Linked DNA regions of Homo sapiens: region 1 is linked to region 2. The links come from fine-mapping of genetic effects on gene expression. A gene starts in region 2. The other region holds a variant in brackets. All regions are shown on one strand. Distances are from middle to middle.

Region 1 (16,035 bases), 260 kb before region 2:
TTTAATCCATATTGAGTTAAATCTTGTATATGGTGTAAAGAAGGGGTCCAGTTTCAATCTTCTGCATATTAGCCATTTATTGAATCAGGAAGTCTTCCCCCATTTCACATGGACAAATAGAAGGGAACAACACATACTGGGCCCTTTAGGAGGGTGGAGGGAGGCAGGAGGGAGAAGATCAGAAAAAATAATTAATGGGTACTAGGCTTAATACCTGGGTGATGAAATATGTACAAAAAACCCCCATGACCCAAGTTTACCCATATAACAAACCTGCAGTTGTAACCCTGAACTTAAAAGTTAAAAAAAGAAAATTTTAGGTAAGTGCTTTGCCTGAAATTGTCATAATACATTGAAAAAATCAAGGCATGTCCATTCTAATATACAACTGTTAAAAAGAATGAGTTGAGTAGCGTAATGTGTGGCCCTATATATTTTTTGAAAATATCAAGTTGTAGAACAATAGATATAGTATACAAACAGGTGGCATATAATATATAGCTGTTTTTTTGTATGTGCAAAAGCTTCATAGGTATCACAAACTATCTCGATAAATGGAGAAATATATACTCTTTCCCCAGATTCCAAATAAAATAAGCAGTCTTCTTCATAAATCTTAATAAATCCTCATTTCGCTTTTACATATAAAAGAATGTACACATCAACAATAGCTAATGATATATGCTACTCCTTATTGAGCTCTCACTCTATAATAGGTACTTAGGATTAACCATGTATTACCTGAAACATATCAAGAAGAAAGACACCATCACTACTCTGATTGTGTAGATGAGTAAGCTTAACCAATAAAAGCTTGGAAGGATTTCACCTGGAGCTTCTATTTATCATTAAAGAAGAATAAATCAATTTTCTATATACTCCCAAGTCTTTTTTGAGTACAAATTATTTGTTCCAGTTTCTAGTTGATCTCTCCTGAAAAAAAATTTCTAAAACTTCAAAGTAAAGAACTATTCCCCAATCTGCAGTTCAAAATGCTGCCCAAATATACGAGGCCCCGTCTAACTGGACATTACCCTATGCAGATGAAATCTCTTTCTAAACCTTCTTTAACACCTACAAAGTTTAATACCTAACAAAATCTCATGGAGATATTTATTGAATGTTTACTACATACTAGACACTCTGCTTATTTTTCACTGTCTCATTTACATATTACAAAAATCTCAGGAGGTAGGACCTCTATGATACCACTATTATTTCTAGTTTGCAGATGAGGAAGCCAGTTTTCAGAAAGATTAACCAATGTGCTGAAGGTCTCGCAGCCGGGACTCATGCTAACATCAGCCTAGCATTAAAAGAATACTCTCCACTGTCTCTTAATAACAACAACAAAATAGTCTACTATAAAAGGTACTAATTAAACTTCCTAAAGATCTTGAATAACTCTCATACATCAGAGATGGATTCTAGGGGCACGAGCGATGATATTGTTTTCCTAAAAGTCTTTGTTCATCACTTTTATGCATTTCTGCTAGGGAAATCTAATTCATTTTTTTTTTCTTGAGATGTATTTTCTATCTATGGAAGATAGTTAATATTTATACTATATCCTACATTATTAGTGATGTTCCATATATATTGATATTTGGACCATGAATCATATATTTCATTATAACCCATACATCAAAGAACATCAAAGAAACACTCAAACATATACAATACTGATAATAATGATGATAACACTCAAACATATACAATACTGATGATAATAATGTCTAATATCTAACATCTCATGTTCCCACCATTTGACAGATTCAAAACAAAGTAAAATGTCTTTTGGAGCAACTTGGATGGAACAGGAGGCCATTATTGTAAGTGAAGTAACTCAGAAATGGAAAATCAAGCAATGTACATTTTCACATAAATGGGAGCTAAGCTATGGATACGCAAAAGCATACAGAGTGGTATAATGGACTTTGGAGACTCGGAAGGGGGAAGATGGAGGGGAAGTGAAGGACTAAAATTACACATTGGATACAATGTATACCACTCAGGTAATGGTGCACTAAAACTTAGAATTCTCCACTATATAATTCATCCATGTAACCAAAAACCACTTGTATCACAAAGACTATTGAAATAAAATCAATAAAGTAGTTGATGTAGAAAAAAAAAGTTAAATGTAGAACAGAAAGAGTAAGTACCTGTGGAAAATACCTAGGTTTTTTTTCTTTTCACTCACTCTTCCTATAACATACTATCCTAAATAGGAAGTATTTATTTAATAGCTTTAGTTTCTCCCATACCATTCTCCTAACTCTTAGAGAGACCAAAGTATACATGAATTAGTTTCTTATTTTAATTACAGTTTAATACTAACAACACCTGTTGGCTCCAAACTGAGAAACTTTTTTTCTCCTGATTCTCATCTGCTGACTGGACATTACTTTGGCAGTTTGTTTCTATAACAATTTCACTATCTGAAAAAATCTCACTCTCAAAGTAAAAGTGATTTTATCGCATTATGCAGATTTGCTTTCTCTCAGGTTTTAATATCAAGTTAGCATGTAAGTGTTTTCTACAATGAGAATTAAACATGCTGACTCTGTATAAGTTATGTTGTTTTAATAGTTAATATAATTTAATCCAAAGCTAATACTAGCCTAATTGGGTTTACTTGTGCCTTGGCTTAAGGTCTAGAATATAATAAACTTAAAGGTCTGAACACAGTGAGGTTAATTATGCTTAAAACCTGCAAAGCAGCAAGTTTTAGGTCCATTACACACACACACACACACACACACACACACACACACACACACACCCCCCAACAGGAAAATGAGTCAAAGAAATTCTTCCAGCAAGAAATGAAATCACGCCTTCCTTCTCAGGTCTGTGTGCCGCCATAGCTCAGGTTATAATATAGCACTTGCTTTTTTCCCACCTCTTGGTAGAGCTTTCTGCCAAATTATTTGTCCTCAAGGGCTATTCAGCTCACAGTTCTATGTTCAAAATGGTTCTCCAGTGCCTATGAAATTAAATATAAACAGCTTACTCTGGCTTTCCAGAATTCTCTAATTTGAACCCAATTTACCTGCACAAGCTCATTGCCCTCTACTTCACTGCATGATCTTTAGCTTAATTAAGGTAGCTTAAGTATTGTGCCCTCAACACTCAAGCAACTTCCCACCTCTGTTACTACCCACCCCTTTTCATGCTGTCCCAATTCCCTTTGGTATCCTCTTGATCATCCTGCTCGCCATTGTTCTTCCTTAGTCTTGCAGGGAACAATGGCAGGGTAAGGAAGTCAAGAGCAGGACACAGTCATAGCCCAGCTTACTGGACCTAAGTGCAACGCCACTGGCTTGCTTTTTGATGGCATTTTATATTTGCCTTGCATGCACATTTTCCAAAAGTGAAGGTTTAATGGATCCAGTTGTTCACCATAAAATATAGAATTATCTTATAGGACGCAAGTTAGTGTGAAGGAACCTCAGAGGTCGTTAGCTTTCCTTGGGTCCAGACCATCACAAATCTTTAGCCTGTGCATCAATCAGTCTTTCATCCAATCCACTGCTGTGGCCAAATGATTGGGCTGAGAGAGCAGAGTCCAACAGGAATGTGTGCAGGCATAGGCCAGATCAAGCCAGCAAAAGACACCTATAGCATGGCAAACATTGAAGACTTGTGGACTCCTTTCTGTCAAGTCCCCTTTTAGTACCCTAAATCCCACAGACAGATTCATTTGTTAAGAAATGAAAGTGGAGGAGAGTATGGATTCAGCAATAAAGAGGAATGAACCACGGACACACAAAACATCATTGACGAATCTCAGAAACATTATGCTGAGTGAAAGAAGCCAGATACAATCGAGTACCTACTGTATAGATCTATGTATAAAAAGACTTTGAACAGGCAAAACTAATCTATTGTGATAGAAATCAGAACAGCAGTTGCCTCATTGGGGATGCAGGGCTTGTCCAGGCAGAATCCCGTCAGACGCGAAAACGATCCGTGGTGATGTCAATGATTTACATCTTGATATGACATGAATTTCATAGGTATGCACATTTCCCAACTCATCAAACTGTATACTTCAAATTTGTGTATTTCACAATGAGGACATTATTCTTCTATATTTAAAATGAGATTTGGAAAGTCAATACAAGTTCTTATGCTGTTTTTCCCCATATGTAAATGAATTCTCTCATTTTCATTGGACTTTGAGGTGAGGAGCTGCATAGGCGTGTTCTCTGAAGTCAGAATTTCTGGGTCCAAACCCCAGTTCTACCAGTTTCTGGCTTTATGACTTTGAAGTTGCCCAAGCATTCTTAAGTTTAAGGCAATTTTATCCAAAGAACAATTATCATCATCATCATAAAAACCTCACAGAATTATTGTAAAGATTAAACAAAAGAGATAACACATATAAAATCTTATGTCTCAAGGACTAAGTATTCATCTATTAGCTGCAAGTGTCAATACCAGATTTAAGCACCTTAAAAGGTAAGGCTGTGCTTTCTTAGTCTTTTTGTTAGTCTCACCACACATTTCTGTGATCTGTGCTTCTCAATCACTGGGCTGTATGTACCAGGGGTGTGAATAGTAGATATGGAGGTTTTCCAACCATATAAAAATGACAACATAACTTAATATATGGTAGAGGTGGGAGTTAAAACACCTTAGATATTATAAATGCATGATATATTTGTGGAATAGAGTGAAATTCCTAGGTATGCTGAAGATAAAACAAGAGAGTTCAAAGTGGTTTCAGACATTCCCCTAGTGGCTTTCTGTTATCCCCAGAACTATCTTCTCTATTCTCCACTGATTTCAAGGTAAATTCAGTGGAGAAGTATTAGAAGTAACATGATACTGCTGAATTCAATCAAAATCTATATTATAGGTCATTTGGGATCTATATTTGGAATAAATATCTGCTAGTTCATATTAATTTATTGGCTTGACTGTATTAATCTACTTAATCTGTTAAGTCCTCAAATTTCAAGCAAGTAGCAATTCAATTATCCCATGAATGAAGGGAGGAACAATGTTGTGCACTTTGCATATTTTTAAAAAATTAATTTAAAAAAGGAAGTGTCAACAAGTAGTGGCTGGAGCCAATGTCATTGCCTGGGTTCTTTTGCCAAGTGGCTATCCATTAATGTTGGATCGTATGACAGACGTGATCCACTATCGATGTTGTCCAAATGGCAAGTTCCGTCAGTGAAGACTTTCAGGGAACAGAATGCTGAGGACCCATTGGTTCTTAGCGCTCTCAAAATTCATCCTGATTTAGCGTCAGGTGTTGTGGATACTGTACACATGAATGCTATGCACTGATCTGTAAAAGAACTCCTAAAATACTAAAAACAAACAACTTAGGTACAATCACATTATTTTAAGCTGTATTTTTCTTAGGGAGTGAGATAAGGACTGGGGCCCTTTTGGAAATTCTATTTTACACAGATGGAAACTGCCAAGATATGAAGGCTTGAGAAATCAACAGCCTTTGGGTTAGCTTAGGGTATATGCTCCCTGAATCCCAATACAAGAGCTCAGAATGGGCATCTGCTTAAGCACCCTGAATTGCTGTGTGTGCACTCCTATAACAGGCAGACACACACTCCTGCCTGGGCTGATCATCGTTCAGCACCATCTGCTTCACAGTCATTGGGTTTCCAAGTCATGCATGTAGATCCTTTACTTTAAAGCGTAATTGTTGATTTCCACACCCAGCCTTCCTTCGTCTGCTGCCATTTCTTCCATAGTTGGCACAATCATTCTGCAAGTATTCATTGACCTCCCACTATCTACAGCATAGCTTAGAAGTTAAAAGCACAGACTCCAGAATCAGACTCCCTAAATTTGATCCTGTACCATTTCCTGGCTTTCTGACCTTGGTCAATTCCCTTAACCCCTCTGTACCTGTTTCCTCTTCTATAAAATGGGTCTGATAGTAATTCTCAGCACATGGAATGATGTGAGCATAAAATGAGTTAACAGACGCAAAGCACTCAGTTTTGGCTAGCACATAGCATAACACCCGATAACTATTGCTGTTATTGTTGTTAGTATGGTCGGGGACTGATACTGAGGATATAGCAGTGAGCAAGACCGACTCTGCCTTACTTCTAGAGGGGCTCGTGGTCTAGTATGGAGAACAAAGCATTTAAAACATAAAGATAAAGTGAATGAAGGGTTATGTCATGGAAAGACAAAACAGAAGTACACAGGAAGAGCACCTAAAACAATCAGTCAACACTCTTTATGTACTGGTTCTTCCCCCAGTCTACGTAAGACATTTGTGGGAAAAGCAAGAAGACAAGACATATCTTTGTGGTTTAGTTGCTATAGGAGTAACCCATAAGGCACATAGAAAACATGAGCACCAAGTCATGGAGAGACGGCTGGGAACTTCAGCTACAACAGTGGTTCTCCATGAGGTACTTTTCCCAGGTGACGTTTGGCAATATCCAGAGATATTTTTGATTGCCACAGTGTGGGGGTGGGGGAGTTTGGCATCTAGCAAGCAGAGGTCAGGGGAGGTGCTAAACCTCTTGCATACACAGGACAGCCCCACAACAAAGAATTATTCAATTGATGTCACGAGTGCCAAAAATGAGAAACTCTGGTCTAGAAGGAGAGACTGGATTGTGATGAGTTTACAGGACAGAACGTAGGTCTGCTTTTGTGTCTGCTTTTCTAAATACTTATTATATACATTGATGTCTCCATCATTCAGACTGAAATTGCATTCATTTTAATATGCCACCCTGGAACAAACCTGTGGGAAAGATGTACAGCTGTTTTCTACCTGTAACTATTGAAGGCTATGAACAAATACCTTTTTTTAAAAAGTGACCACATTGTCTTACACCAATTTGCATAACCTACTGCAAATCATCCCTGGCCCTCCTGGACTATGCCATGGTGTCTTTCACGTAGTTTGTGCTTCAAGTAGACAAAAGCTTAAGGGGATAAACGTCGGGAGTTGAAGTGACACCCTGTTAAGTAGCTACTAGATTTGAATTTTCTCCCCAGGATTCTATAGTAAATGCTTAAATATATTATATTGTTACATAGAGCCCTAAATTGCACATAAAAATAATTCCAAGTACTGTATTTAACTTTAGTCTGATTTTAAAAGTAGTTTGCCAATTGCTTAAATTAAACAGGTATTTTATCAACTGGGGTTCCTACTAATTATGCTGTTCCTCTTATTAAAAATTACTCACTCTAGCATGTTTCAATTTCTGTAAAACAAAGAAAAAGTTTTTTTCACGTTTTTATTTTTAGAATGAAATGTGCAATGAAAAAGAAAAAAAAAACATATGTACAACATACCCTGTTAAAATAAGTATTTATCTTGGAAAGGCAAATGTATGGGTTCTGTATAGCTAGATTTAAGTACATCAAGCCTTTTAAACTCAATGACTGACTTACAGTCTGTGTAAAAAACCACCCATCAAAGGGGTAGAGCTCATTTAATTATTTACAAGTGTGTCTTTTTGCAGTTAACTGATCTGGGGACTTCTTTATCCTTTTTTATTTTGTGGAAAGTGTCAGTGTTAAGCACTGGGGCCAATATTCATTAAATTGTGAATACAGCTTTAAATGGATACAATCTTTCTTTGTCAATTATAGCTCAATAAAGCTGGGAAAGAAAAATAAAACAAAATAAAGTCAAATGAATAAAAGCCTAATGTAAACTATGGACCCTGGCTAACAATGAGGTGTCAGTGTAGATTCACCCATTGTGACACGTGTGCCACTCTGGTGCGGGTGTTGATAGTGGGGAAGGCTGTGCATCTGCGGGGAAATGGGGACAGGGGGTGTATGGGAACCTTTAGTAGTTTTTCTTTTCTTTTTTTCTTTTTTTTTTTTTGAGACAGAGTCTTACTCTGTTGCCCAGGCTGGAGTACAATGGCGGGATCTCAACTCACTGCAACCTCCGCCTCCCAGGTTCATGCAAGTCTCCTGCCTCAGCCTCCCATGTAGCTGAGATTACAGGCACATGCCACCACACCTGGCTAATTTTTTGTATTTTTAGTAGAGACGGGGTTTGCCATGTTGGCCAGGCTGGTCTCAAACTCCTGACCTCAGGTTATCCACCCACCCCGGACTCCCAAAGTGCTGAGAATACAGACGTGAGTCACCATGCCCGGTCCCTTTTGTACTTTTTACTCGGTTTTGTTGTAAACCTAAAACTGCTGTAAAATATAAACCTAAAAAACAACTATCAAAAACACTGTAAGAAAAGCAGATTAGTAAACTCATAGAATGTTAGTGTTGAGAGGGCCTTAGGAATAATTCAGTTTAGTATATTCAGGGTATAAGCAGGGAAATCCAGGCCCAGAGATGGGCTATGCCTTGCACCCAGCAATATGGTGAGTTCACGGTAAACTACAAACATCTGAGACAGAAAAATTCTACCATGGCCCTCAGTGAGGCCCTTGTTTAATCCCTTCCCCTGTGAACACGGTAGAATAATGTAAAAGTTCTTAGGTCTAGTCCAGTGAGATAGAACGCTCACACAAGTCAGGCAAAGCAGACCTGTCACTCACAGATAGGCAGCAAGGATAAACGGAAGTCTAGGAGCCATGACGAAGCTATCCTCCAAGGCTCAGGAAAGCTGCTCCGGGCAGATGGAGTCTCATCTACGCATGCCCCGCAT[C/T]GCATCACAGCTGAGAAACCCCAGCACGGCTCTGGGTTTATATACCCTGGGCAGCACCTGGCTCACTGAGCCCACGTGCTGCAGAACACTCTGTTCTAGGAAGAATGCAGACATAGCCTGGGTTGTTCCGCACCCTTCCTCCTTATCTCAGGGTGCTACATTCTCAGTACATTCCGGAGTTATTCTGAGAATTACCAACAGGAGGTGGGAAAGCTAGGTCAGCCAAGGTCATCCAGGAATCTGTCCTCCTCCAAGTAATATTCCCTTGATTAGACTACATTATATGAAAATGTCAAAGGATATATTTGTAGACATAATTAAAAATCTTAATTGGTTAACTTTAAGTTAATTAAAAGGGAGACTATCCTGGGTGAGACTGCCCGAATCAGGAAAGCCCATTCAAAGAGGGTGCAGCGGTCAGAGACTCAAAAGAGTAGAGATACCCTCTTGTTGGCCTTGAAGAGAAAAACTGCCCTGTTTTGAGCAATTCCACATAACAGGAAACAGTGGGTGGCCTCTAGGAGCTGTGGGATTCAGTCTTATAATAGCAAGGGGCTAAATTGTTCCACCAGTGAGCTTGGAAGAGGACCCCAAGCCTCAGATGGGCGTGCAGCCATGGCCAGCACCTGATTTCAATCTGCTGAGATTCCAAGCATGAGAATCAGCTGCGTACTCAGACTCCTGATCTATGGAGACCGAGATAATAAGTGAGTGTTGTTTTAAGTCACTAAATTTGTGGTTAAATCATATAACACAGAAAATTAATACAATAACCTTGTTCTGTGATTTTCCACATTTATAACTGCCTCCCTCCCATCTGTGGGCCAGACCATTCTTAGATCCTTTGAGATGATATAGACATTTCAAGACACAAATTAATAGGGGGCAAGCAAAGGATTTTCACATGCCCTTCATTCCCCCTATCCAATCTCCCATTTTATAATGCCCAGATAGCTTAGGCTCAACTTCCAGGCCTCAGCTAAAGATTTAGGTGGGAATTCTGATAGTCCTAAGACTTAGTGCTGACTTTGCTATTTTGGCCTATGAAGACAATTAGTACAATTCATTAAAACAACGAAATAAGTTTAAATCCATACATCTATACTGATTCTAAAAATAAAATCAAATGAAAAAAATCCCTCATTGGAGAAATGTAGGAAATTTCTTTATTTTAAAAATGTTAAATAAAGGGAAAGACAAGCATGTATCTCCCTTTCCTATGTGGATTCAAACTCAGGGTAACTAAACAGCTGATGAAGAAACTTCTCTTTATAAAACGTTCCACTTCTTGGAATGAATGAAGAAGAAATTATAGAATTCAAACATCACTATTTAAAACTCCAGTAAATTAATGGAAGTTAGGCAATGATTATCAATGGCTGCTAATATCACTTAAAGAGGGAAAAAAACAGACAACTATGTGCCTCCTCATGGTCAAACCACCACCTATGAGATCAACGTGCCAAAAAAATGGAATCCGCAATGTAAAAAGCCTCTCAAGGTCTAATTTGCAGGAAATACCAAAGGCAGAGAAATACGTTAAAACCACCACGGAAATGCACCAATCAAAACTCAGACAGTGGGATATGCCTAGCATAAACAACATGGTTCTTTACAGATGAATTGCAAGGAATAAAAATAGAGATGGTAGAAGAATGTACACATTAAAACACACCTAAGAGATATATCAATAACTGCAACTTATGAATCTTATTTGAACCCTGATTCAAAGAAAGTATATATACACACACACACACACACACTACAACTGGGAAAATTTGAACACTGGATATTTGATGATATTACATATTAAAAATCACTGGAGCTTTTAAAAGATATTCCTGCTTATTTTTTGGAATGAGAGTTCTTGACTTTTAAAGATATGCTTAGTGACGTAATGATAAGGTATGTGAGATTTACTTCAAATAAATGTGACAAGATGCAGGGGTATGTGGGTTGGGTCACAGGTGAAACATAATTGGCCATGAGTTGAACAATGTTAGCTAGTAGACTGGTGCATGGAGGTTTAATATTTTTCCATTTTAAAAATATACTTAAAATTCTCTATAGTAGAAAGTTTATATACAAAAAGCAAAAACAATCATGTCACCCTCTACTTAAAATATTTCAGTGACTTTTTATTGCTCTTGGGATCAAAGACCAAAATCCTGCAAGGTTCTGAATAATCCAGCCTTCGCTTCCTACCCCAGCCTCAATAGATCTCATCTTCCTTCTCTCTGAGTTTCATCTGCAAAGGTCTCTCATTCTTCCCAAGGTTCAGCGTCTTTGTAGGCCCTTTCTCTTGCCAGAAATCCTCCTCTCCACCTACTTTTTCTTACTGAGTGAAACAATCCTATTAAACAATCTCATAGCACTATGTTCATTACCATTAAGGTATTTTTATTGGTAGCAATTACATATAGATTTGGTTGAGGATTTTATTAATATATGATTCCCAGCAGAGACCTGGTATGATTTGGCTCCAGTGCTTTGCTCCTAAAAGGTGAACAAAATACTTACATGCCAAGGAATGGAATAAATAAAATTACTCAAGAACATCCAACCAATTTTTGCTAAGTAATTTATGTGTAAAGGGATGTTAAAGATATACACAAATAAAAAAATTGAGAAAATGATAGTGCTCATAAAGTATCTTTTTCATGGGTGTTTGAGAAAGTTCAAAGATGAATGGAGAGACTACAAAGAGCTGTGCCACACTGGATCCCTCACACTGGGCTCCTCAGAGAGGAGAAGAAAGAACCAAAGTCAAAGCCTTTGTTGTGACACAATTTATGCAGCAGGGAGTCTGTGATAGCCAATGGGATTCTCAACAGCCCATGTCTGAATATGATGTCCTCATCAGACAGAACAGAACGCAAGCCTGCAAACCACCAATGGTTAGATAGTCATCAATGGAGAGCTGGATTTCACTTATTTTTCTTGTTTTTCTAGCTTGGAAGGAAACTAAAGTGGGCTCAGGAGTAAGAAAAGAGAAAACATATTAATTCTCTTATTGGAAAGTATTTCCTTTAATCAAAACTGAAATTCTAACCTCTGCCATTTCTTTTTTTATTACCTCTTGTGTGCAATATGTCCTCTAAATTCAGATAATTTTCCTATGAGCCTAAACCTCTTACAGTATTCTGTCATTTATAACTAAAGAATATGGGTTTCTCTCTGTGCATCAGGTATATTTTGATCACCCTCTATGAGTAAGGTTTTATAATGGTGAACAAAATGACTCTGGATCTTCACCTTGAGGGAATCACATATAAATTAATTTGGGAAATAAGCCCCTTATTCTTTGATGAATAAGGTAAAGATAACTCTGAAATACATGTATTCAATTTTTGCTAGATGCCACAAAGCTGTAATACATTCCAAATGACCTGGTTTCTATGTTTTAAAGCAGGAAAATTATATATTTAAAACAAATTTCTATGTTTTAAAGCAGGCAAATTTGCTATGCAAATTATAAGAGGAAAAGAATATTTCCATCCAAAGGAATATAAATCATTCTATTATCAAGACACATGCATGCGTAGCTTCATTGCAGCACTATTCACAATAGCAAAGACATGGATTCAATCTAAATGCCCATAATTGATAGACTGGATAAAAAAATGTGGTACATATACACCATGGAATACTATGCAGCCATAAAAAGGAAAGAGATCATGTGAGTTGGAAGCCATTATCGTCAGCAAACTAACACCGGAACAGAAAACCAAACACTGGCCAGGCGCGGTGGCTCAAGCCTGTAATCCCAACACTTTGGGAGGCCAAGGCGGATGGATCACAAGGTCAGGCACTCGAGAGCAGTCTGGACAAGGTGGTAAAACCCTGTCTCTACTAAAAATACAAAAATAACAGGACGTGGTGGTGGGTGCCTGTAATCCTAGCTACTCGAGAGGCTGAAGCAGAGAATTGCTTGAACCCAGGAGGCAGAGATTACAGTGAGCCGAGATCGTGCCACTGCACTCCAGCCTGGGTGACAGAGCGAGACTCCATCTCAAAAAGAAAAGCAAAGAAAAAAAGAAAGAAAACCAAACACCACATGTTCTCTCTTATAACTGGGAGTGGAATGATGACATACATGGAAACACTGGGGGGAACAACACACACTGGGGCCTGTCAGGGGTGGGGCAGGGGGGAGGGAGAGCATCAAGAAGAATAGCTGATGGATGCTGGGCCCAATACCTAGGTGATGGATTGATAGGTGCAGCAAACCACAATGGCACGTGCTTAACCTATGTAACAAACCTGCATATTTGCACGTGTACCCCTGAACTTAAAAGTTGAAGGAAAAAAATATCTCCAACACATTTCTATACGTATTCCCATAGAGGGTAGCTAATTAGGGATTGGATGCGGGTGGTGGGAGGACCATATAAATAGAAAAGTATTCAACGCCATGCTTTTCTGAGAAATTAATAATACAGCAACAGGGATGTTTGCTCTGATAAAAAAAAAAAGTCAAAATGTTATCACTCAATAAGCAGCTATTCGTTCTAGGCTCTCATAACATCTCTACCTACTATCCTATACAATACAATCTACAACTTTCAGGCTTCTGAAAATTGAACGTGCCTTGTGGTCCATATTATTTTAGAGAGCACTCTATTTTAAATCACTGGGAGCTTGTAATATGAATCCATCAAACTGGTCATCTTCTTAAATAAAATAGCAATATTTAGCAAAGGCAATGGCATAATACCATACGAATTCCCTTTCACTGTGAGTGTTAGTGAAGTTGGCAGCACTTTCTGAAAAATGTGTTGATGTGCATCAAATGCCTTAAGATGGTCTTAAACCTTTAACCAATTACTTCATATGTAGGAGTCAATTCTTATTAAACTGTGGGAGGAAAAAGTAAAAGCACACATATATACAAGGATATTCAACCTAAATGCCAGAGAACAGAATACTGCTTAAATAATGTTGATGTATCCGTGTAATGTCATATTATACAACCATTGGGAGAAAAATATTTTCAAAGAATATTTAGTGACATGGGGAAATAATTCTAATATAATGCTGAATAAAATAAAAGCAGGCCTGAAAATACCATGTAATCGCAATAATATATACATACAGAAAGAACTAAAAATGTACTTCTTATAAATAACTATAGAAAGTTTATCAAGGAAGTAGTAGTATTATCTGAATGGTATAGATTATTTTTTGGATGGTTCTTTTTTTTCAACATTTTCTATAATCAGAGAGCACAAAATAAAAATTATCAAAGGAACACTGGAAAATACTATATGCAATATATAACTCTCTATTAATGAGAAAACTAACTTAATAATATTGTAATAATGAGAAAACTGACTTAAAATACAATATGTCATTTTTAACCATTGTACATCATTGGAATTCTTTTTATGTGCATTTGTTTATATGCCACCTACTTACCATAGAGATTTCAGGCATTTAATTGGGAATCCACTGAAGTTGGGCTTTATTTCTAGGCACTGTCCCTTAATTTTAACTAAACTCTTAAGTGAAAATACTCTTAGGCACACAAGTTGCCTACAGCATATCTATCAGTACCTAGATTCCTATACTAGAAATCAACAGGTCACCATTTCTATTAACAAATAATAAAAAAGAGTATTAACCTAATTCAAAACTTGTCAACTATTCAAAAATAATTAATCAGTGTTCTTCCATGCACTTATCCTCATTCATTCAACAAACATTTGTGGAGTCTCCATGTGCAGGCAGTGTACCTTGGGAACACCATGACCCAGATCCCAAGGAACTGTGTGCTAATACTACTGGGCAAGATCTTACGAGGTACACAGAAGATGAAGAAAATGTACCTGTCCTCACCTGCTACCAGTTGTTTTATGAGATAATAAATGTATTAAGTAAAGCAGGTAGTTGGGACACAGCTATAGAATTCCTGAAGAAAAAAAATACATGGAATATTTTTCAGAAGTTGAATGAGGAACAATAATGAAGAAACTCTCAGTCAAGTGGAATGCACTGTCATATTACCAGGAAGCCCTGATTTAAAACAGATCAAATTATCACCTCCCCGTTATTAAAATAAGTCATCAGAAATAATACCCAATAGACATGGCCGAATGTCGCATTTACAACTAAGAACTGGGATTGATATGAAAATTCATGCCCTGGTTGATTAGTAAGCACTAGAGCAAGTGAACAAAAAGTTAACTATATATATATTATATACAAAGTTTAATATATATAACCTACTACATATAGTAATTATCGCCTATAATTATATAGTATACTATTCTATACTAATATAATGTATAAATATGTAATGTATATTACTATATATTCAATTTTATTAATATATGATACATTAATATAATGTATACTATCATAATTATACAATAGAATTATATTATTATATAATTATGTAATATAAAAATGCCTATAATTATTATATGTAATTTTTATATATATATTATTCTTCCAGGTACTTATCCTCATTCTTTTTTATTATATTAAAAAATGATATATAATATATATCATTCATAACACCGTATGATATAGTCATTATATCATCACATGATAGAGTCATTATATGAATGCTACATATTCATAATATATACTTATATAATTGCATGTATTATGGTATTATATATGTAAGATATGATATATATGATTATATTATATATGATTAATATGTAATATATCATATCAGATAATATACTAATATATAAGGTTATATTCATATATAATTGGTAATATATAATATATATTATATAATATAGAATACAAATATATAAAATATATAACTGTATATATCAGATATTAAGTATATATCAGATATATGTTATATATTTATATATTACATATATTAATATGTAATATCTATATATTATACTACAAATTAATATAACATTAATTATATCAGATGATATATTATATGTTATATATTATTTTACAATATATAATATATGTCATATTTTATATTATTTTACAATATATAATATATGTCATATTTTATATTATTTTACAATATATAATATATGTCATATTATATATTATATAATGACATAATATATGTATTATAATAATGTATTATAATAGTATATGTTATATATTAATATATCATATATAACTATATATTAATATACGTTAATTATATCAGATGATATAGATGTTATATATTTCTATATTATTTCATATTATTTTATAATATATTATATATTAAATATATAAAATAAAATAACAATTCATGACAGAAAAAAAGTACAGGTTTGATCTATAAAGGCTCAAGCTAAAATATGATTCCAGTCAAATTAGGTCATAGATTGTGGAGAGGATCATTTTGTTTTCTTAAATTATTTGCACAAAGAAAGAATAGGGTGCCTTAAAATAAAATAAATAAGCAAATAAAAGGAAGCTAGAAA
Region 2 (16,035 bases):
CCTGGTGATGAATGAATATTTTGACTTGGCAATTAACACAATTATCCTGGAAGACATGCATGCATGTGTCTCCCTATAATACCTTGCCTGTTGCCACTAAATACAAAAGCCCCCTGCCCCACCCCCCAAAAATTGTTTTAATGGACTAAAGACCAGGAAATTGAGCCAAATCTCCAAATAAGGCAGGTGTAATAATAATTCCTCCTAAGAAGAGGCCTGCGATCCTCTGTTTGTCTTTTAGTGTTGAAAAAAGGGCAGAACTTTTCCTCAAAGTCTTCAGTATGAGAATATTGGTCTTTAAACTCATCACCACTCATTCATACATTGAGCATCCTCCTGATATTTTAGGGGATCTTCTAAACTTAACTTTTTAACAATCAGCCCTTCTGAAAGAAGAGTTTACTAAGTTCATTGATTCTCTTTTGGCAAGCTCGCAATTCCTACATTTGGACAAATTAAACACAGTAAAGATTTCCTATATCAGCTCAGAGGACACTACCTGAAAATTCAGAAAGCTTTTCTTAGACTTCAGGAAAAAAGAAATGAGAGGATGAAAGGATGAAAGGAAGGGAAGAAGGAAGAAAGAAAGAAAAAAGGAGCAAAGAAGGAAGAAAGGGTTAAGAAGAGACAAAGTAAGAGGAAATAAATAATGTAGAATACATATTTCCAAAACGGAAAGAAAAAAACAATTCAACTAACATATATTAATCTTTATTCTATAACAGACATAAATAATTTTATGAATTCATATGACCTATACAAAAGACAAGATATTGCACTAAATTTAGATATGGGATATTTGAATTTAATATTAGCTAAACAGATAAATATATACAATTTAAAGAGTTAAGGCAAAACCAGATGATACTTCAAATACAACAGAAGCCTTGAAAAATAGGTATAATTAGAAACAACAGCATCCCACCACCAGTTAATAAAGTGGTCATGTCTACGGAAAAAAAAAAAACCTTAGGTTTTTAATAAAGTGGTTATTATCAATCATTTTAATTAAAGTTGAGCAATAAAGTATAAGATTTCCCTCGGAGGGGAGCTGTTTTGCTGAGGCTCAGGGATTGAGCACTTAGATTTTGGGTAAGCAACTTTTTCCTTGTCAGATTTATGATCTATTCTTCTTCTTAGAAAATATAACTTGGAAAATATGACTCTTTCACATATACAATTAAAATACAACTATGAAGCATTCTTTTTTTTTGAGAGAAGTCATGTCGATGATATCGTAGTCAAGGTAAATTTGTGGGCAAGCCATTCATTACCTTATTTTAAGAGAAAACATAATACCAGTTACTGAAAAAAAAAATCCAAGTTTTTTACAAGAACCAAACAAACTAATTCCAAAGGAATAAAAACAAATATAATCAATATATTAACACAGTATACAGTTCTTTGGCAGTATCACACTAACCGTTGATTGAAGTCAGAACTTTAGAGTTTTCTAATCCTTAGACCTGGTTGCCAGTCTTTTAAAACTAAACAAATAAAATTCCACATCTGTAACTAATTCAGTAATCCCAGGAAATGAAATTCAGAATAAGTCTTGCAGACAGCTTTTGACTGTTACATTTAAGCATAGGTATTATCTGCTTAGAGTCCCAATCCAAATATACTGAAACAGACACACACAAATAATCTGTGAAATTTTGTATTGGTTCAGACAGGCTAGAATCCTTAGAATCCATATCCACCCATGAGAAACCAATAAAAGACATCAATCCAATGATGAAAAAATGATCTTCCAATAACTCAGGAGTGGGTCATCCCTCACCTGGATGAACATCATGGAGAAATTGAATCCTATAGGGGGAACACCAGAAAGCCAGAAAACGTGGAATACTGCCAGCCTCCAACCAAATTACCTTTCTCCAGTTTTAGGTAAACCTTATCCTCTTTATCTAGGTAGAGCAGGACACCATTCGTGGCAGCTTCACGAGTAACATCTTTGTCCCCCGCAAAGGCAGATATTACTGGTTTTCCATTTAACATCAAGTTAACCTAGAAGAAGAAAAATAATAATAATTGAAAAGTTCTCTTTAAAGTCAAAACATCTACTGGGGAGAATAAATAATGTCTAAGATGATAGACCCAGTAAAATACCTGATGTTCAGGAAATATATTCCCTTCCTTTCAAATTAGCCAATTGTGGGGGCCATACTTCACATGTCTGCTGAACTGATTTTTTTAATTTTTTTTTTCTGATTGGAATTTCCTTAAATTCCTACAAAAGAATAACATCTATGGAGACCAACCTAGCCATGTGAAAACTAGCTTCCCTTCAGCACATAAATTAAGCTTACTGCTTTACTTAACTCTTCCACCCAACAATAATCTTTTGGAAATAGAGCAGGCTTGTGGCTTCCCGGTACATTCGTAAAAGAGACCCTCTGCCCACTGACATAAGAGACCCAGATACAACCCAATCCTACCAACATCCTTGCGAATTTTTGTGCAGCTGTAACATGCATACTACTGAAAATCAATTGAAATAATGAAGTTTGTGTATATATGTGTCTGTGTGTGTTTATTTCTTTTTCTATTTTCCCTGATAGGAAACAAGCATCAAAAACAATCATCAGGCCAGGCATAGTGGCTCATGCCTGTAATTACAACACTTTGGGAGACCAAGGCAGGAGGATCACTTGAAGCTAGGAGTTCAAGACCAGCCTGGGCAACATAGCAGGACCTCATCTCTAAAACAAACAAAACAACAAATTTAAAAATTAGCCTGATTGGTCACATGCACCTATAGTCGTAGCTTCTCAAAAGGCTGAGGCAGGAGGATTGCTTGAACTCAGGGGTTTGAGGCTGAAGTGAGCTATGGTTATGCCACTGCATTCCAGCCTGGGTGAAAGAGTGAGACCCTATCTCAGAGAAAAACCAAAAAATAAAAAATAATAATCACCACTATCACTGATTTTAGTGATTTTAGTGATTTTAGATTTAGATTTTAAATTTTAGAGATTTCAGTGACAGATAATTAGAATCAACTCAAAACTGTATTAACTATTTTCTATTCTTCAATTTTGATTACACTGTGTCAAGCATTGCATACATTTCTAAATATTGGGGGTTGGGAAAACTTTTCCATGGAAGTAAGTTTGTTTTCTAGATTTTTTTAGGTTAAAAGTCATATGGAATAAATTAAATCTGAGGCTGATCCATTTATCCATTTACTAGGACATGTAAAAGTATTAATAGATAAGCATGTAATCTATCATTCATATTGACATAATGTATAACATAAATACTGAGCATAAGATAAAAGGTTATCTTAGAATTCCATGCACATGTATTTGTGTCATTTAGTATTAGCATACTGGAATATTGTTGGAACAAGCTCCACTGTTGCTTTTGAATGTAAGGTCAAGCCCATTGTCTTAGAAAGCAGAACACAAAATATATTAACTGTGGAACTGCAGTTGGTAAGAATTCACTAGCATCAGAGTAACTGAGGATAAACACAAGCATACGCATAGAACACCGTTTTTTAAAAATGTATTTTGAATAGTTCCTCCTTCATAGACTTATTCTTACTGATTAGCTGTATCTCATAATTTTAAAAAATAGCAAATGTGTTTTATTTATTTAGTATGCACTTGTAAAGCTGTACTAGTCTTACAAGTTTTTTTCTTATGAGTTCAAGTAATTCTTGTACATGCATTAAATGAAAGCATGATCTTACAAAGAGATTTGTGTCACTGAATTTTTACTCAACCATGGATTTTTAAAAAATGTTTGATTGTTATTAAGGTAATAACTTCAATTCTCTATTTTTCTATACGCTTTTTGTCACGTCTTAATGGATGTTAAAGAGAAAAAAATTAGAAATTAAGTGTTTTAAAATAAATGATAAAGATGGCTGCTTATTTCTATTGTGGAAACACAACTTTGGATAAGTACTTAAATATATAACCCACTAAAGATAAGCACAGTTGGTTGAGAGTATGGATGGAAGAGGTCAAAACACACACCTGGATAGTTTGGCTCTGGTAGACTTTAATCACGTGAAAACTGAAACTGTAAATTCCTTTTCTTGGTGCTACAAAGACAGACTCCAATGTGAAAAAATTACCCACATTCACCAGGATCTACAAATAAAAATAATAAATAACAATAAGTTATTATATTTTCTTCTGTAACTAAAATGAATTTTCTTCCTCTCACTCTCTTCCTCTCCTCTTCCTTCTTTCCCTCCTTCCTTCATTCCTTCCTTCCTCTTTCTTTCTTTTCTTTTTTCTTTTGTTCATTCATTCATTCTTGGCAACTAGCTTAAGAAATCATAGAAAATAAAACATCTAGTTCTGTATCTTTCCTCTTAACTGATTTGGAAAATTGACTGGAATACTGGAAGGTTCTTCTGTCTTTTAAATGATATAAGAATAAATAAAGTAACTGCTTTGTATTCATGTCTCAATTTCCAGCAAGGCCCAATGGCTCTGGAAACATCGAGCTAACATTTGAGAACTTATAAATATTAGCTTTACCTTGAGAGTTGGATAAAAGGCACCCGCTATGTGTTTACATTCCCACCTTCTACAAGCCTTTGCAATGTCCAGAGGTGACGTTTCCAAGCCAGCCAATCAGCATCTGTGAGCTCTCCGCAGCATCCCTGGACAAACCACAGAGGCATGGGTACCCCCTCCACCATGTGACATAATCCTTGACACTGAACAGTTGGTGCACAAAGTGATCTGAATGCCTGGCCCTTCTCTGAGCCACCACCACCCCTCTCCTAAGATCTGTTACCATTTTTTTTTTCATTCCTGTGCCAGCTAGGCCTTAATTATAATAATGTGGCAATGAGTCAGCCCTTGTGGGCTGCCAAAGAGGAGAGCATAGAGAAGGCTAAACTATGAAATAGGTGGCTTTCCCTGTTCCTCCCCGGGCTGTCCATTAACCTCCTATCAATCACCTGCTCTTTATTTGAAGTTCAAGGTTCAAAAGTGAAATTAGATACTGTTTCCCAAGAAAGCAACAATGCATTTTGTATTCCAAAATATTCAGCCTAGTTCTATTGGTTATAAAATTAACTCTAAATTTTAATAAGTGACCTCTTAAGCTAAATTTGCAATGTCACATGGGTAAGTCTCTTTCTATGAGAAAGAGGGATTGGGATGGAGGATGGATGTTAAAATAACCAGGGTTTGTTCCATTTCTTTCCAAGAAATACACCTGTAAGTGGCATTCAAAAATAATAAGAGGTCCCTAAAAAGATATACTTCTCATATATCAATGGCAATCTGCTACTATCTCTTTCGAACACTGCATTCTTGCCAATATTAACACACTTGCAAGCCTCTTGCATAATTCCCTAAAAATGTACTATTACCTCTGGGCAACATACCAGAATGTAGTGACAGTCAAGCAGATGTATCAGGCTCAACACCTAACTTAAAACACATGTACGTGTATAATTTCATTCTGAGATTTCGCCTTCTTCCAAGTAAGCATCAGATTTTTTTTGTAACCTGATGATAGATGGTCTTTCAACAAGTCACCAGCTGTGCAATAATCCCCAGCAGAGGCTTTACAAAGAAATTTTTCAAGCACAATTAAAATAATTTGAGGTGCTTAGTGGTGACTTCCTGATTCAGATACAAGTAGCATAATTCATTAGCAATAATGAAAATAGCTGATTAGTGTTGGCTACATATAAAACTGGATGTTGACTCTACACTGTAATTGGAGCATCCAGGTACATCGAGATTTATAACCAAATGTGTGTTCTTGTCTCTAAGATGCAAGGCTCACTGAAAAGAAGAACAAACCCTTTTCCTCTTCTAATTGATGGAAAGGTCATTGAAAGGAACACCCTGTATAGAGGATAGTGCAATGCCCACAGTATTCCAACATTTAATTAAAGCATTGAAATACAAACTAGGGGTGGTGCTAGACTTTATTTCCATCAAGATGGAAAATACTGCACCAAAACCCCAAATGGAGCTACTTAATTCTTTAAAAATTATGTCTATCAAATACTAAGCCCCTAGAGAGGCATTCTCTGTCTTTGGCCAGCTGGAGAGTGCATTAGTTAGGAAAAATTAAGCAAGGAATACAGATGTCACCTCGTGCTTTCCCTGGCACATCCTGCAACACCACTTAACCTGTGCCCCCTGCACATTGCAGCTTTGCATACAACTGTGAACTGTGAATTTGGAATTTAAAAAGACTCTGGATACTGTTGGGGCTGAAATTAAAAACTCTGAGGACAGTTTTCTCCCTTAAGACCCCTTGCTAAAGGTAAGCTGATATCCTGGGGTTTCTCATCAAGCCAAACACGGAGCACCAGGTCGCTAAACAGCAGCTACAGCTTCCGTCAGCTCTTCCCCTACTCTCATCAACCTCAAAGTCTGTCTTTCCCCAGCTATTTGCAATTCTCTGAAAGGACATGAGCCCGGGAAGGGAGAACTGGCTCCCAAGCGCTTTCCTACAGGAGCTCAGCGCAGTTGCCAAATTCCTTTTCCTCCCCTCCTCCGCAACTTTTCTCTAAGTACCGGAGAAGGGCTTGCTGCCTACTCCGAGGCAGCGGCAGTGCCAGCGGTGCCTGGCACACGAACAGTGGAACCTGCAGGCGAGATCTGACCCCCGGCTCTGCCCCCGCCCTCCGCGGCCACCTGCCCGATCTCTGAAGAGTGTGGAAGCCCGGGGCTCTCTTGGGAGAGAAGCTTCTCTACCTGGGAGAAACAAATCAAACATTTATCCTGTTCCGCAAAGGTACCCAGGGAGCAGCCTCAGCGGCACCCGCAGAGGAGTCTGAGCAAGGGCACCAAGATCTGGCCAAGAGATAACGACGTCCAGGGACCAGGTGCCCTTCGGCTCCCGCCGACCTGTTGCTCGAAACTTGCCCTGAGCTCTCGCTGCCGGGCTCTGGGCTCCCAAGCCTCTCCCCCGCCGCCGCAGCAGCCTCTTTTAGGGGCCCGGAAGAAATGGGAGCCGGGGCTGGTGAGAGGGGTAGGAAGAGGGACGGTAGAAGTTTCAGACCCAGGCATATTTGGGAAGGCGAGTGCTTTACATGATTCCCCATTTCCCAATCGGACCAGCTTAGCCTGGGCAGGCAGCCTCGTGCTGAGGTGCCTGGAGACCGCCCACCCCCTAGGTGCTCGCTTCCCCCCGGGTCTGACCTGATCGAAGTAAATGATGCGCGTCTTGTTGCTCATCTCGGATGGCTCGTGGTTGGTGCTCCGCACCGCCGAGAAGGCGACCTTGGAGTTGGCCGCCCGGACCGATATCCCCAGCGGGGAGGAAGAGGAGCCCTTGGAGTCCGTGGCCGGGTTCGAGTCGCACACCACCAGACACTTGCCCTCCAGCACGATGGGCTCCGTGTCGTTCTGTGCCCAGACGGGCAGCCCCGGCAGCGTGAGGACCAGCAGCACGGCCGGCACCGCGGACAGCGCCCGGCGCCCGGAGCCCATGGTGAGCCGTGTGGGCAGCCGCAGCCGGCTGGCGCTGGTGCTCGCCCGCGTCGCCTCCTACCCCGGGATCCCGGTGCTCGGGAAGATGCTAGCGGCTAGGTCGACAGCGCTGCAGGAGCGACGGCGGCGGCGGCGCGCACACTTCCACCAATTCTGTGGCTTGAAGTCAAAGTCTCCCCTCGAGCTCTCTCGCTGGCTCTGTTACCTTTGTCCTTTAAGGAGCTCATGCAGCACCCTTTACCCTACTCTCCTCCGCCCAAGAATCAGCCCTGCCTGGGGCCCCTGCACCCACTCTGGTTCCTAGACATCTGAAAGTCATCAAACCCTCACATTCACACCTCAAGGCAAAAAATAATAATAATAATAAATTCTCACCCCAAACTCAAGCACCACCAGCTAAACCACGGAGCAGGAACAAAAAGAGGGGACTCAAAGAGAAGCCACAAGGGTGGCGGGTGCCCAGCGGCGCGGGTGCCAGTCCTGTCTGGCTTGCGGCAGGGACGAGTTACAGAGGCAGAAGGTCCTTCCCAGGCTGAGAAGAACGCGAGGCTGTGTTCATGGCCAGGACGCCAGCGACTCCCACTTTCGCCTGGTCAAAAAAATCCCCCAAACCTGGTGTCACCCAGAGGTAGGGAGGGAGGCAGCGGCTAGCCAGGTCCCTCGCACCGAAAGCGCGGATTCGCAGGATCAGGTCCAGGGCGCCGGGCGCAGCGTTCAGGGCGGCTGGTCCGGCGGGGTCCTCTCCTGCCTGGCCGCCCGCCCCCAGTCCCTGCGCACAACTTTCTCGTCCCTCGTGCAGCCCGGAGAGCGCGAAGCGGGCACACGCGCTCTATTTATAGGAGCGCAGCGTCCGGCTGGGTTGGCTTATCGCGCAACCCGCGGGCTCCGAGAAAAGGGGGAGAAGGCGTCTGGTGACCCCATCTGAGCAGCTCTCTCCTGACGTTTAACGCACCCCAAAGCAAGCGGGGCGCACAGCACTGGTGATTGGCAAGGTTCGAGGCCCCTCAGCCCCTGAAAGCCCGTGGCGTAAAGGATGCGTGCCCAGAGAGGAGCCCACGGCCCTGCGCTGGCCCCAGCTCCGCGCCCACTCTCTCCTGCTCGATCTGAGTCCGCAGAGGAGGCGGCTGGTCCCCTCACCCCTCCCAGCGCGGAACTCTGCCGCCGAGTGCCCTCCAAGCGGAGCGCGGCGCTGCCAGGCCGGGTCGCGAAAAAGGATAAGCCGCCGCGGACCCGCGCTGCGCGCTGCCCCGAACCTGGGGACCGGCGGGCGTCCCGACCGCGCCTGGCCGGGAGCCCGCCCCACACAGCCCTGGGGCCTGGCGAGCTCAGGGAAGCCTTGGGGCGGACCAGAGCCCGTGGGGGCGGCTGGGAGGAGGTGCCTGATTCCTTCCTTCCGCTCCGGGAAGATGAGCCTCAGAAGCCGCAGGGGCGCGCCTTCCCCCCACACCGCGAATCCTCCCCAGGCATGGCCAAAAAAAAGAGTGGGAGAGGGAGTTAACTCAGCAAGAATAAGTCCTCCGAAACCGTGCCAACAACAATAAAAAAATAAAAATAAAAATAAAAATAAAAGACAATCCCACTCCTAGGAATACAGCATTTTTCTCCCCTTTGGATGCGCTTTCCGCCCCCGTGCCACTCCACTGCTATCTTGGCCTCTGATTTGCAAGAGTTCCCTTCCTCTTCTGCAGCTACCACGGGGAAGGGAGGTTTGTCTCTGTCTGGACCCGGCTGCGTGAACTTGGCCGAGTCACTAACCCTCTCTGAGAGGGGGGCGCGGCGTTAACTAAGGTCCTCCCCACCCCCATCCCGCCAGCTTTCCAATTCTGTGATGCTGTGGGGTCATGGCGCCCCTTCCCCAATTTCTTCTACACTTCCAGCTGCCAGAGGGCAGACACGTATGGTATCTTTAACCAAAACAGTATCCCCTCCAGGCATTCGGAGCTCCTAAAATGGCATTGGCTAGTTATGAATGGAAGGGATGTTTATTGAGGGAGGTCCTTGGGATGGACGGCTCCCATTCCTTCCTGAGTGAAGGACGCCCTCATGAGCGTGGCATTCGAGCCCTCCACAAAACAAGGTGAACCTCGTCTCCAGCCTTTTTCCCTTCCTTCAGAAGGGCCGGGCATTGAGCTATAAGCACCAGCTCCAACTGTTAAAATTGAAGACACTACGAGGAATCCCCTAACCCTCACCTCCCTATAATCTCTCAACTAAAGTGTTAATACTTGGTGCCACAGGGGCCTTCAGATTCTGCTCCAGTGGGGCCAGTATCAGGTGTTTTGACTTTATGATTTTATTTTACTTGTGGTGGGGGGTGGTCTCGCTATATTGCCCAGGCTAGATGCAAAACTACTGGGCTCAAGCGATTCTACTACCTCAGCCTCCCCAGTAGCTGAGACTACAGGCCGGTGTCAGTTCCGGCTGGCAGGTGCTAGTACCATGCTATTTGTTAAAATGTTGAAAGTTACCTATCTAAGCTACAACCAAACAAGGTGAACTAGTGCCTTCTGAAGATGGCCACCATTTACCCAGCTTTGATGCCCCACCCTAAGCCCAGCACAATCTTCACCTGATCCCTCTCTGCACTTTGTAACTCTCTTCCAGATTTTAGGGATGTCTGCCTGGTTAACAGCAGCAATTTCTTCTCATTTGATGCAGTCTTTTGAGGGTGGGTGCTGAGTTGAATTTAGTTCCTTTTATTTCCTGTAGGGGTAAGCACCCTGCCTTCCTTGTCTGGGACAGCTGTTCAATAACTAGAACTTTGGTTGTTCAATTTCAGGCTGGGAGAAGTTTGACAAAAAAAAAAAAAAAAAAAAAAAAAAAACTGTGTTGAATTGTTAAATAGAAAATAAGCTATCTTCCTCACCAATTCCAATATATTCTCTCTACCTCCTTTTCTTCTCCAGGCACTTCCTGCACGCAAGAACTGAGATTTGAAGAAACCTATTCTTTCTCTCACCAAAAATATTCATTTTTAGTCCCAAAATCTGCATAGTGACCATAGTAAAGACTCAATAATTGAGAAATGACTGAATGCTTCCTAATAGAAGGTAATTATCACTCATATTATAGTATAAACTGCTTTAAATGAGTCTCTCTCAGTAAAATTTAAATTCAAAGCCTCCTTAATAATTGGGGATAAGGGTCTCGGTTCCTTACTAAAGGATGTTCTGCTCTTCAAAGTGTTCTGAAGATAAGGAACACAGCATTTTCTGTGGACCCCCGCTAAGAGAAGTTATCTTATATTGTGAATCAGAGGGTCCTGACTCTTTTTCCCACAACAGTTGATTAAACACGGATAGCCCCTGGGTTCTAGGACCATCAATGCATTTGATACCAGAAGTCCAAGATTTGTATGGTCCAACTTGGCCAGATGACTTGGGGCTGCCAGATTTTCTCTCTGCAATCTTAATGAGACATCAAAATAGCTTCCAGTAAGCACTACATGTGGCAGAGACAAGGTTTGTAGTCTCCCAAACTGACGTGGCCATGTAGGAGTCATCTGCAAGCTGAAGCAGAAGAGGTATTGGAATAAACCAGAGGACTGGCCACACTTGTAGAAAGAAGCCAATTCTGGAGCATGAGCACTTCTAAGAAGTACAGGGAGTGAATAGTCAATCGCCAGTTCTGAACTCTTGCTTACAAGAGTTCCAGAAACATTTTCTCCTAACCTTGGGTTTCTTGGTATCCTCCTATGTCTTTGAAATAAAAACCCAATTCCCTTGAGCTAGTTTTAGTAACATACCGCTCCCTGTCATCCAGAATCCTCATTAGAACATTGTCCCAGAAACCATACCACAAAAGGCTATGGATCTCTTGCCAAAAGACTAACAAATCCAATCTCCTGCCTGTAGGAAATGCTTTTCCAACATTTTGGGAAAGGAGGCATCACCTGTTCCTCACCCCCTACTTCAGCCCCAGCATCCCCAGGAGAAAAGAAACAAGATCAAGTTTAAGTTTCTCTCCAACCACAGCATAGATCTGTTTTTCTTTTTCTTTTTCTTGTATTTTTCCAGTTGAAAATATGCTATTAGAAGACCTAGCAGTGACCCAAATATTTTCCCTTTCTGAGATTCCCATATTGTATTTGATGCCTAGGATTTTTTTTTTCTCCTAGACCTTTAGAGATGACGCAGAAATGCATTTCAGTTCTCTGCAGCTGGGCTTAACTTTAAAGTAAATTAGAATCTAAACTATCCTTGCATAGGAAAGCAATACTTCTGAGGTCAGTAAATTCAATGACTGCTTGTCCAGCCATCCTTTAGAGAAACCAAGTTTCAAGCAAGCCCAAGACAGTAAGGATCTATGAGCTATTTTCTGACTGTGAAGAAAATGTTTCTGAGAAGGCAAAGACAGACACACACAAGGTATTCAGCTCTAAGGGCCTCACTGTGGTTGAATGAAAGCAGACTCCATGCATCATGCAGCAGAGACAGCCGCAGGTCAGTCGTGCAGAAGATGGAAAATCGAGAGAGAGAGAGCAGTGAGGCTTGCATCATACCCAGACAAAGTTCCACTGAGTTGCTTAATTACCCTTTGCTCTTTATAATGATAGTTATCAGCCCAAGCTAATGATCTTTTTTGAGGGAGAGTAAGTAGCTTAAGAAGAAAAAGTCTTGGTGGGACTGTAAACTAGTTCAACTATTGTGGAAGTCAGTGTGGCAATTCCTCAGGGATCTAGAACTAGAAATACCATTTGACCCAGCCATCCCATTACTGGGTATATACCCAAAGGATTATAAATCATGCTGCTATAAAGACACATGCACATGTATGTTTATTGCAGCACTATTCACAATAGCAAAGACTTGGAACCAACCCAAATGTCCATCAATGATAGACTGGATTAAGAAAATGTGGCACATATACACCATGGAATACTATGCAGCCATAAAAAAGGATGAGTTCATGTCCTTTGTAGGGACATGGATGAAGCTGGAAACCATCATTCTCAGCAAACTCTCTCAAGGACAGAAAACCAAACACCGCATGTTCTCACTCATAGCTGGGAATTGAACAATGAGAACACATGGACACAGGAAGGGGAACATCACACACCAGGGACTGTTGTGGGGTGGGGGGAGGTTGGAGGGATAGCATTAGGAGATATACCTGTTAAATGACGAGTTAATGGGTGCAGCACACCAACATGGCACATGTATACATATGTAACAAACCTGCGCGTTGTGCACATGTACCCTAAAACTTAAAGTATATTAGAAAAAAAGAAGAAGAAGAAAAAGTCTCCATGAACAACCAATATGTGAGAACTTACATAGTCTGGAAAGTTCCAGAGTCATGTTGAGTAAATCTTCATAGCTCCTTCTGGAGACAGCCAAATGACAGACTTGTTTCATATGAGGATGGTATTGTGGGAAAAAAATAGATGGATGCTGTAAAAAATACTTCTCAATTGGTTTTAGAATTTGAAAATTGTTTGGGACAGTTTTTCTAGATAGTTTATTCCACTCACCCCATTGGCAAATAAGGTACGTGTCTAAGACATCAGTGAGAAGTGAGACGTCTTGGTCATGGCTGCAGACAGGTTTTGATGCCCCTTTTTGGCTTCCCATGATACCCTGAGCATGTTCCAGTCATTATATTTATCATAATGGTTTTAGTTGATTTATTGTTGTGTTTTCCCTGGACCATTAACTCTTTGGGAGGACAGAATTTAGCAGAGAGTAGGTATGCATAAATAAAGTTTACTGAATAAAGTAACATCATTGCTTTTAGTTCTCATAAGGGAAACAATATAACATTTAATCACTATGATCTAAGTATGATAGGAAAAGTAAAATTATTTCAGAAATGTTGGGGGCTTAAAACGTCAAGTCCACCTTAGTTACTAAGAATGGAAGCCCAGTGAGAAAAGGTTTTGTGGAAAGGGCCACATCTTGAAATGTGTTGAGTTGAACCTTGAGACTGTAGTAAAATCTTAGAAAGAACCTAAAAAATTCTCTCTCTCTCTCTCTCCCTCCCTCCCTCTCCCTCTCTCTCTCCAGTCTCTCTCTCTCTCCCCGTCTCTCTCTTTCTCTCTCTCTCCCCCATCTCTCTCTTTCTCTCTCCCCACTGTCTCTCTCTCTCTCTCTCTCTCTCTCTCTCTCTCTCTCTCTCTCTGCTCTCTCTGTGTCCCTCCCTCTCTTCCCCTCTCCTGGGCACATCTTCATTATTCTTTGGCTCACTGCAATCTACCGTTCTCTGAGGCCCGCATGAGGGAAAATGGCAGCTGATACTTCCAGATTTCACACATAACAAAGCCATCCACTCAGAGATGCCCCCAGATCCCCGAGAAGAGATGCACTGCAGCCATCTGCGTTCAGATGCCCAATCCCAAACCAATCAACTTGGCTGTAGAAACAGAATCATGCTGCACACGTGACTGATATCCCAGCAATGAGGTGTGTAGAAAATTGGGGCGGGGCATGGGAAAAGGAAAAATCCTAGAAAGCTAATATAAGCAATATGTGGCAAAGGGAAGAAGAACAAGAGGCAGACTAATTTGTGTTGTGTGATTCCAAGTTAATTCCCTGCAAGTGTGTACAGATATGTGTGTATTTCAATACACAGAGAATACAAGTTGGCAACAACTTGTCAAATTTAAAGGAATTGAATAGAAGGAAACACTATTAATTGTATTTCAGATGTTTCCTTATTATATATGTGCTCACAGCAATTGTGTATTACATTGTGATTCACGTTTGAAAATTTTTTGTTTTTTGAGGTGCAGTCTCGCTCTGTTGCCCAGGCTGGAGTGCAGTGGCATGATCTTGGCTCACTGCAAGCTCCGCCTCCCGGGTTCACGCCATTCTCCTGCCTCAGTCTCCCAAGTAGCTGGGACTACAGGTGCCCACCACCACGCCCGGCTAATTTTTTTGTATTTTTAGTAGAGACGGGGTTTCACCATGTTAGCCAGGATGGTCTCGATCTCTTGACCTCATAATCCTCCTGCCTCGGCCTCCCAAAGTGTTGGGATTACAGGCGTGAGCCACCGCGCCCAGCCCACATTTAAAATATTTTTTAAAAAAGAAAGGGTTTCTGAGTAGATCATCCAATAGTGATCTATCACATTCACACTTCTTCTCCATAGTTTACTCTTAATTAAAGTTTAAAAAGTGGCATTGATTGAACAGCAATCTCCCTTTTTTGTTATACTGATCCGACTCTAAAAATCACTTACTCCAAGTTTAGAAAGATGCTCTGATATAGAAAGCCTCACAGTATACATTTAAGAAAAAAAATTCCATTGCAACTAGTAACACTGATGCATGCTGTCAAAATTTCTCGCTACATTTTATTCAACTTGGCTTTCTTTATATAGTATGTTAGCATCTAGGAAAGCCATAGCTCAGTGCTGGGTGTATGACATGTGCCTGGCCACTCGTGTTTATGTTGTGTAGATAAGAAGAGTCTAAATGTGGGGTCCAAACCAATGGCTACTTGTAAGAATCAGCTGGGATGCTTCTTTCCAACAGAGACTCTCTGGCCTTACTCTGAGATAATGGCTCTGCCCATGAACTGGGAAGGTTTACTTAACCAGCACCCAGGTAAATCTGAAGCAGATGGTGTTTGACTTTGTAGATGCCATTGGCGTGATGCCACAAGAGTCCATTTGCATTCGGGTTTTTTAGCTCTATGGTTAAAAACAGGGTGTTTAGAGTCAGCTCTACCTCCTACTAGCTTTATGACCATACAGCAAGTTACAAACCTTCCTTCATCCAAGAAAATTGCAATCATGAAAATCATATTCAGTCCATAGCTTCTTGTGAGAACTGAGTGGGGAAATTTGGGCAGAGCATTTAGCTCTGCACCTGGCACACAGGAAAGGCTCAATTAAGGGTAGCAATTATTATCATTAATCTGTAGACTCTACTAATGACTAAAGGTGTCAAACCACCACACTCTAAACCAAGGCCCATTAACTATTGGCAAGCAATGGCCCAACTTAACCTCACAGACATTATAATAGGGGAAAACGAAGTGTACCCAAGTGTGAGAGACAATCCAGGTTCAGATGCCCAGAAAATAATCACACCCGAGTTTGCAGGGCCAGCCATTGCTGATAGATCAATGCTTATCATTATGCAGAGCTAAAGCTCTTGAATGAAGCGAAGACACCAGGCATGTTTGTGAGCTCCCTACAGGGGATGAACAACAGGTTTAATTTTATTTTTATTTCTTTCTTCCCATACTCTCAATCATTATGTCTCATCTGAAAGAAGCATTGAGTGGAAATAGATGGATTCTTCAAAGTGGAAATTATACAGAAAGTCAAGAACAGCTGGTCAGAAACAGTCACCACAGAAACAGGAGTTCAGAAAGCCAGGTAGACACCAGAAAATAACACGGCAGTTGTTAAATATCCAGGAGCCAACACGGGCATCTTAGGAGCTAGTATGCCAACTATGGAGAGTCCTAGACACTTTTAACTTTCCTGACTTTAGCGCGTGTGGTTTGTGGGAAGAGAGAAAAATAGCTTCAGTCCAATAGGCAACTCTCCTCGCCAGGGCACTCAGTGAACATCTGTCCTTTGTAAGCGTGAGATGGGAAGTGCGGATCTGCTGTTGCTGCTCCATTCCTGCTGCCTCTCAGATATGAGCAGCTTGTG

Which allele goes with the higher level. Alleles are on the strand shown, and positions count from the first base shown. SD is a standard deviation of normalised expression in the study named.
For the expression in testis of the gene that starts at base 8,775 in region 2, allele C in region 1 goes with a lower level than allele T (moderate effect, 0.66 SD a copy in GTEx).

What was found. PIP is the estimated chance that this variant, and not a neighbour inherited with it, causes the effect.
Region 1: its variant is fine-mapped to the expression of CBLN4 in testis (GTEx, PIP above 0.99).

Annotation. Positions count from the first base shown.
Region 1 is chr20:55,736,382-55,752,416 of GRCh38, forward strand. It overlaps LOC107984001 (a long non-coding RNA gene), which reads right to left and starts at 8,650. Exons shown (of 4, transcript XR_936884.3): 1 at 8,529-8,650. The variant C/T (reference allele first, on the strand shown) is at 8,639.
Region 2 is chr20:55,996,745-56,012,779 of GRCh38, forward strand. CBLN4 (cerebellin 4 precursor) reads right to left here and starts at 8,775. Exons shown (of 3, transcript NM_080617.6): 1 at 7,137-8,775; 2 at 3,987-4,103; 3 at 613-2,010. The coding sequence starts at 7,427. The coding sequence ends at 1,813.